Linked DNA regions of Homo sapiens: region 2 is linked to region 1. Evidence: fine-mapped expression QTL. A gene starts in region 1. The other region holds a variant in brackets. All regions are shown on one strand. Distances are between the middles of the regions.

What was found. PIP is the estimated chance that this variant, and not a neighbour inherited with it, causes the effect. A credible set is the group of variants that fine-mapping cannot tell apart.
Region 2: its variant is the best candidate, but not a certain one, in a credible set for the expression of CYP2F1 in platelets (CEDAR, PIP 0.85).

The regions. Positions count from the first base shown.
Region 1 is chr19:41,111,877-41,116,194 of GRCh38, reverse strand. It overlaps CYP2F1 (cytochrome P450 family 2 subfamily F member 1), which reads right to left and starts at 1,763. Exons shown (of 10, transcript NM_000774.5): 1 at 1,703-1,763; 2 at 1-17. The coding sequence starts at 6.
Region 2 is chr19:40,824,595-40,828,983 of GRCh38, reverse strand. It overlaps the pseudogene CYP2F2P. Among named protein-coding and RNA genes, the nearest start is that of CYP2A6, 24 kb to the left of the region's middle. RefSeq lists enhancers at 1,601-2,100, 2,101-2,602. The variant T/C (reference allele first, on the strand shown) is at 2,532.

The DNA.
Region 1 (4,318 bases):
GTCCATGGTGAAGGCAGCTGCTGGCGTGTGGAGGGCAAAGTGGGAGAGGACATCGCTGATCCCTCCTTTCCATCTCCCCTGGGACTTACCTTCCCTAGGCCCTGGAAATGAAGGCAGATGGAGAGAAGGAGACAGGGAGAGGCCAGGGGATGGGGAAGGGAGGGAGAAAGGAGGAAAGAGGCAGAGATAGTCAACATATAGACAGATAAGGAGACAGAAACACAGAGACATAAATGGAGAGAGGCAAGTGATAGAGGAACAGAGACTAAGAGAGGCCAAGAGATATGCATAAAGATAATGAGAGAGACAGAAAAACAGTGAGCGATCTACATATCTACAGATGTCTGTCTACCTATCAGCCATCTATCATCTATCACTCTTTCTTTCCTTCCTTCCTTCCTTTCTTTTTCTTTCTTTCTTTTTTCTTTTTCTTTCTTTCTTTGTTTCTCATCTATTATCTAACATCTATCAACATCTATCTATCATCTATCTATCTATCTATCATCTATCATCTGTCTATCCATCATCTATCTATTCTTCTATCATCTATCATTGATCTGTCTATTATCTATCATCTATTATCTATCTATATCTATCATCTATCTACTATCTTCATAATCTATCATCTGTGTATCATCTGTCTATTATCTATCTATCATCACCTGTCTGTCAAGAGACTGTCATACAGAGACAGTGATAAAGAGAGATCAAGACACACAGGGACAGAGACAGACAAACACAGAGATAGGGAGAGCCAGAGAGCACATCACAGAAAGAGAGAGGCTGACATAGACTAGAGAAAGAAAGAGACAGAACTAGACAGACACAGAGCTAGAGAAAGACAAGGGAGATTGAGTGGAGAGACAGTGAGATGGACACTGACTGAGAGACAGAGAGGGACATGGAAGGATGGAGAGAAAAAGGGTAAGAGGGACAGAGAGAGGGAGAGACAGAGCTAGACACAGAGACTGAGGGAGACGAGAATGACAGACAGAAACAGATACACAAAGACAGAGTCACATAGACAGAGATGGAGAGAGAGAGAGAGAGAATAAGAGAGGCAGGGAATATTAGAGCCACACAAAGAGACGGGTAGGCTGCAAAGGGCAGACCAAGAGAGACTGAGGCCGGGCACGGTGGCTCACGCCTGTAATCCCAGCACTCTGGGAGGCCGAGGCAGGCGGATCACTTGAGGTCAGGAGTTTGAGACCAGCCTGGCCAACATGGTGAAACCCTGTCTCTACTAAAAACACAAAAATTAGTCAGGCGTGGTGTTAGGCACCTGTAATCCCAGCTACTCAGGAGGCTGAGGCAGGAGAATCGCTTGAACCCAGGAGGTGGAGGTTGCAGTGAGCTGAGATTGAACCACTGCACTCCAGCCTCAAAAAAAAAAAAAAAAAAAAAAAGAGAGAGAGAGAGAGAGAAAGAGACGGAGACAGAGAGGAAGGGCACAGGCAGAAACAGTGACAGGAAAAAATCAAGTGTTGCCAACCATGGGGTTGCATTGCAGAGAGAGAAGCCACCTACTTGGTGAAGCACCAGTAAAGAAATCCCAGTGCTCAGAACAGGGACATGAGAGCTCTCAGAGGAAACAGCAAAAAAGATTCCTAGCCAGTCTCAGAGACAGAGATTGGAGCTGGCGACCCACCCTCTCTTGGGAGACACCCCCTCCTTCTCTGCCTCCCTCACCGGGGCCCTTTACCTGCTGAGCTGCAGGAGACACTGGCTGGGATGCGCTAGAGCCTGCAGCTCTGGGTGTGCTTGGGGGGTGGTGGGGCAGAGGTTGTTCTTAAGTTGTTTCTGCCCACACCCTCCTCCTTAACCCCACTTTTCTTGTTCTCGCTGTGAACTTTAAATCCCTCCCATCATCTTGCCATACCTTTCCTGCGGCCCTAGGGCTCACAGCCAGCTGGAAAGGTGCCGTGGGAGGGGGCTGCGCCTGGGGGCCCTCCTGGGATGGGGCAAAGCTTTCTTTCTTTCTTTGTTTTTTTTTTTTGCTTTGCCAGTTGGAGCCTGGGCCTGGTTTTGGGGTAGTCATGGGGCTGTCGCAAAATGATGGGCCAGGGATGGGGGCTGGGTTCCTTTGGTATTTGGGGCACTTGTTTCTTTTTCTCTGGGTTCAAGTCCATTTCTGCCACTGATGGGCCGAGTGGCCCTGGCTAAGTCCCTTTCCCTCCAGAGCTGGAGTTTTCTCTTTCTCTGGAAGCCTATTTTTTCATAGTTCTCCATGCTGTTCCCTGTCTCTTGCCGTGGGTCTCTGAAATGCTCTGTGTCTTGCTTTGCTTCTGCCTCTACAGTCTCTGCCTCTGAATCTTTTTGTCTCTCTGTGTCTCTGTCTCTCCCTCCTTTGGTGTCTCTGGGTCTTCATTTCTTATGCTCTCTGGGCTTTCTCCTTCTCTCTGCTTCTCTCCCTGATCTCCCTGTAAGTCCCTCTCAGTCACTGTCTCCTGATCTCTCTGGTCTCTCACTCTCTCTATCTCTCATGTCTCCACGAGTCAGACTGCACTTGGTGGGACTGAAGCCAAGCTGAGGCTGAAGGAGTGTTTAAGAAAAGGGCAGAGCTGGAAGCCACAGGGAAAAAGCCTCTCAGACTAGAATGACACTCTCTCCCACCACTGGCTCATAAACAGCCCTCCTCCTGCCCTCCTGAGCACCCTACTAGCCATGTCTACTCTCAGCTCCTGCCTTAGAAACTCACCCTAGTAGGCCAGGCGCAGTGGCTCACGCCTGTAATCCCAGCACTTTGGGAGGCCGAGGTGGGTGGATCACCTGAGGTCAGGAGTTCAAGACCAGCCTGGCCAACATGGTGAAACCCTGTCTCTACTAATAATACAAAAATTAGCCAGGCATGGTGGCTCACGCCTGTAGTCTGAGCTACTTGGGAGGCTGGGGCAGGAGAATCGCTTGAACCCGGGAGGTGGAGGTTGCAGTGAGCTAAGAACATGCCACTGCACTCCAGCCTGGGCAACAGGGTGAGACTCGGTCTCAAAAAAAAAAAAAAAAAAAAAAGAAGAAGAAACTGGCCCTAGTTACCCACCTCCTGGCCAGGTCACAAGGGCAGAATGCAAAACCTGGAGCTGGGCCAGGGCTCTGGTGCCAGGGGCTAGGCTGGGTGGAGAGCCCCTGCGGTCAAGGGTCTGGGAGGCCAGGTGGAGGTGTGGGTACCCCCACAGGTTCGTGGGTGTGCACCAGGATTGCTGTTCTCAGAGGGGCAGAGGAGGAAGTGTTTGGAGGTCCTGGGGAATTTGACACCCTAGGTCCCAGGCATATGGTGGGGTGGAGGTGGGGCCCATGCTGTTGTTTCAGTCCTGGATAGGCCGGTTGGGGCAGGTCCTGGAAGAGGGCTGAAGGCTTGATGATGGGATTATATAGCTCTAGTTTCCCTTGGCGTCTACTCCCTACTTTTAAGGGGAGGGTGTAGTGCTGTATCCACGCCAACCCTGTAAGCAACTTATCCCTCACCCTAGAACTTGGTTAAGAGGGGCCTAATGAGGCTGGGCGTGGTGGCTCATGCCTGTAATCCCAGCACTTTGGGAGGCCGAGGTGGGTGGATCACCTGAGGTCAGGAGTTTGAGACAGCCTGACCAACATGGCAAAACCCTGTCTCTACTAAAAATACAAAAAAAATTAGCCAGGCGTGGTGGTGCTTGCCTATAATCCCAGCTACTCAGGAGGCTGAGGCAGGAGAATCACTTGAACCCGGGAGGTGGAGGTTGCAGTGAGCTGAGATTGTACCATTGCACTCCAGCCTGGGCAACAAGAGTGAAACTTTGACTCAAAAAAAAGAAAAAAAAAGAAAAAAAAGATGGGCCTAATGGGACCACCTGATTGGGGAAACTGGGATTTATGGGAAGGGCAGTTAGTTAGTTTGTTTTGACACAGGGTCTCACTCTGTCACCCAGACTGGAGTTTAGTGGTGTGATCATAGCTCATTGCAGCCTCGATCTCCTGGGCTTAAGGGATTCTCCTGCCTCAGCTTCCCAAGTAGCTGGGACTACAAGCACGCATCACCACACCTGGCTAATTTTTAAAATTTTTAGTAGAGATGAGATCTAGCATGCTATGTCACCCAGTCTGGTCCCCAACTCCTGGGCTCAAGCGATCCTCCCACCTGGGCCTCTGGGGATTACAGGCGTGAGCCACCATGTGTGGCCGAGAAGGGGGGTTTTAAGAGGCTTTGAGTTCTGTTATTCTGACTTGCTCTCCTGCTACAGAGGGAACTTGGGGCAAGGAAGGGATGTATTGCAATTTCTCAACTCACTGCTGTTGATGTCTTGGGCCTTCATGGGTGGTGGGGGCTGCATCCTGTGTGTGGTAG
Region 2 (4,389 bases), 290 kb after region 1:
GCAGGAAGAGCCAGAGAGAGACAATGTGAGGATGGAAGCAGAGACTGGAGTGATGTGCTTTGAAGATGGATGAAGGGGCTTCGCACAAAGGAATAAAGGGGCGACCAGAAGCTGAAAAGGCGAGGAAATGGATCCTCTTATCAAGGCTCCAGGAGGTACCAGCCCTGCTGACACCTTGACTTTATCCCAGTGAAGCTGATTTTGGAATTCTGGGCCCCAGAAGTAAAATAATAGTTTGGGGTCTGTTTGTTTACTTGTTTGATTGTTTGTTTGTTTGTTTGAAATGAAGCTTCACTCTTGTTGCCCAGGCTGGAGTGCAGTGGTATGGTCTTGGCTCACTGCAGCCTTGACCTCCTGAGCTCAACTGATTCTCCCGCCTTAGCTTCTCAAGTAGCTGGGATTACAGGCATGTGCCACCACATTCAACTCATTCTTTTAACTTTTTATAGAGAGGGAGTCTTGCTATGTTGCCCAGGCTAGTCTCAAACTCCTGTGCTCAAGCAATCCTCCTTCCTCAACCTCCCAATATATTCTGGGATTACAGGTGTGACCCACCACACCCAGCCTACATTATCTTTTCTTACTCAGTCCCTCCTGCCTCCCTCTAAAAAGGATCCCTGTGATTACATTAGGCCCAGCCAGACAGTCTAGAGTAAACTTCTCATCTCAAAATCCTCAACTTAATCCCACCTGCAAGGTCCTTTTTACCATGTAAGGTAACAAATTCACAGGTTGTAAGGATAAGGACCTGGACATCTTTTGGGGGGCATTACAACCTGCCACAACACCATGATCTGTAACAGCCTTGCAATGGGTCAGGCCCTTCACTGACTCCCAGTCACACACTCACTGACTCCTTATAGTAGCCCCAGGATGAGAGGAGTGCCATCAGGCCCATTTTACAGATGAGAAGACTGAGGCTCGGAAAAAGGAAGTCAGTTTGCCCAAGTCACACCAAGGCTAAGAGACCAACGAGGATTCAAACCGCGTCCATCTAACTCCAGATCTGGTTTTTTGGGCTGTGCTATTGTGTCCTGGGTGCTGTGTTGAAATATGCTGTTTTGGCCGGGCATGGTGGCTCACGCCTGTAATCCTAGCACTTTGGGAGGCCAAGGTGGTGGATCACTTGAGCTCAGGAATTCGAAACCGGCCTGGGCGACATGGTGAAACCCTGTATCTACAAAAAATACAAAAACTAGACCAGGCGCGGTGGCTCATGCCTATAATCTTAGCACTTTGGGAAGCCAAGGTGGGCACATCACTTGAGGTCAGGAGTTCGAGACCAGTCTGGACAACATGGTGAATCCCCATCTCTACTAAAAATACAAAAAAATTAGCCGGGTGTGATCTCAGCTCATTGGGAGGCTGAGGCAGGAGAATCTCTTGAACCTGGGAGGCAGACGTTGCAGTGAACTGAGATCGTGCCACCGCACTCCAGCATGGGCGACGGAGCGAGATTTCATCTCGAAAAAAGGAAAGAAAGAAATGTGTTGTTCAGTATTTACTATGGTCTGTTCAGCTGTTGGACGGCCAGATGCTACGTGTTGTGTTGAGATATTTCTGGGTGAGATTGTAGAGTTGTCAGGCACTGCATGTGATTTTGCATTGTGTCATCTGCTGGCTGCCAACGTTGTTGCGTTGCTGCATAGTGTGTCCTTTGTTCTGCTGCCTTGACTGTATGTGTTGTGATGCCACATCGTGTGTTCTGTGCTGTCTGCTGGGTTGCTGTGTACTAGCGTGTGTTGTGTGGCAGGATTATGTAGCGGTATGCTGGCATTACGTGTTGGTGTGTGGTTACCGTGTCTTGGGATGTTTCCGGGCTGGCTATTAGGTCACTGCGTGTCGTGTGTTGGCATGTACTGTGATCGTATTTGCTGGGTGTTCTGTTGCCCTGTGTTGTTGTGTTCCGTGATGCCTGATGATTGCCTTGTGCTATGTCGCGTGCTGTGTGTGTGTTGCCAACCTGTTCTGTGGTTGGGCGTTGTTGCTGTCGATGTGCTGCAGGAAGCTGTGGGTTCGGTGCTGTCTGTGGCATTGACAGATGCTTTTGGGGTGTTGTTAAGCAGCATGTTGTGACCATGTGCCCGTGTTTGCACCGTAAGACACGTTGCCATGGTTGAGTCGGATGTTGTGCAAATTAATGGTGTTGCTGCATGAGGTCTGGTGTGCTGCACATCGCGTCTTCCTGACCCATTCCATTCTTCACCCTCAGGCGAGCCCTTTGACCCCACGTTTGTGCTGAGTCGCTCACGGTCCAACATTATCTGTTCCGTGCTCTTCGGCAGCCGCTTCGACTATGATGATGAGCGTCTGCTCACCATTATCCGCCTTATCAATGACAACTTTCAAATCATGAGCAGCCCCTGGGGCGAGGTCAGCCAACTGAGTCCAGCAGGGGCAGGGTGTGGGGTCCGCAGGATCTAGGAATGGAGAGGAAACAGTGGGCGGGGAAAGGGCTGTGAATGGCCCGCCCAGGGCCCGCCCCCTCCCATCTGACCCCACCCAGAGTTACACGGCCACGCCCACTCCCC[T/C]CCACTGAGCATTTATGGCCGCCACTGCCTCCTTCCCACTCCCCCTCAGCCCCAACCCCCACCCCGGACCTGGCTGCCCTTTGAGACCCTGTCCCTGCCTACCTAATCCACACTGACCCCATTCGCCCCTGAACACCCTTCGTCCTCCTCCAAAACCCTCCTACTCTGTCTGGTCCCCAGTTGTACGACATCTTCCCGAGCCTCCTGAACTGGGTGCCTGGGCCGCACCAACGCATCTTCCAGAACTTCAAGTGCCTGAGAGACCTCATCGCCCACAGCGTCCACGACCACCAGGCCTCGCTAGACCCCAGATCTCCCCGGGACTTCATCCACTGCTTCCTCACCAAGATGGCAGAGGTAATCCCTACCTGGAAATCCCACCTCTAGTCTGACCTGAAATTCTCCTGCTGCCCCTGCCTCAAACCCACAGGGACCCCAGATGGGGCAGGGTTGGGGGACCTTCTCCCTGGAGAAGCTGAAGCATCTGGCCCAGCTGGGCTGGAGCCAGGAGCCACTCGCAGCCACCGCCAACTTACAGCTCATTAAGAAGTCATCAAAGGAGGTGGGGCAGGGCGGAGGGGGCAGTTGCTCAGGCTTGTTATCCCAGCACTTTGGGAGGCCGAGGCAGGAGGATCGCTTGAGTCCAGGAGTTCGAGACCAGCCTGGACAATATAGTAAGACCCAGTCTCTACAACACATACATACACACATACATACACACACACATACATACATACATACACACATACACACATACATACATCATACATACATACACACATACACACATACATGCACACATACATACACACACATACACATACATACACACATACACACATGCATACATACACACATACATACATACACACATACAGACATACATACACACATACATACATACACACATACACACACATACATACATACATACACACATACATACATACATACATACATAAAATGTATTTTTTAAAAAAACAAGAAGTCATTCAAGCTCTATCCAAGAAGTTAATTGTAGGCCCTGCAGCTGAGATTTTCCCTGCCCTGCCCTTCTGCGTTCCCCAGCTCTCCCAGGGAAAGAAAGTTAAACCCAGCTGGGACTGAATGGGCCCCCAGCAGCAGTTGTACTGGTCTAGAGTGAAGGGGTCTCCATCCCTGGCTCATATCCCCACCCCTCTACCACGGCAGAAGAAGGAGGACCCGCTGAGCCACTTCCACATGGATACCCTGCTGATGACCACACATAACCTGCTCTTTGGCGGCACCGAGACGGTGGGCACCACGCTGCGCCACGCCTTCCTGGCATTCATGAAGTACCCGAAAGTTCAAGGTGAGGCCCACCCACACAGCAGCGTGGAGGTGCCCATGTGTTCCAGCCTCACCCCAGAGCAGGGAACCACGACCCCACCTCCAGTCCCGCCTCCCAGGTCTGATATAGCCTCCTGCTGGCACCAGGATTCCACAGCCAAACCCACAAACCCACACGGAGGCCAATCCCACCACGTGGCCCACGAGGTCCACGCAGCCTGCCTGAATCCCGACCCAGATCCCACCCGCTTAATTGTTGGTTTTTTTGTTTTTGTTTTGTTTTTTGGAGACAGAGTCTCGCTCTGTCACCCAGGCTGGAGTGCAGTGGCATGATCTCGGTTGGCTCACTGCAACTTCTGCCCCCTGAGTCCAAGGCATTTCTCCTGCCTCAGCCTCCCAAGTAGCTGGGATTACAGGTGCACACCACCACATCCAGCTAATTTTTGTATTTTTAGTAGAGACAGGGTTTCACCAAGTTGGCCAGGCTGGTCTCAAACTCCTGGCCTCAAGTGATCCACCCACCTCGGCCTCCCAAAGTGCTGGGATT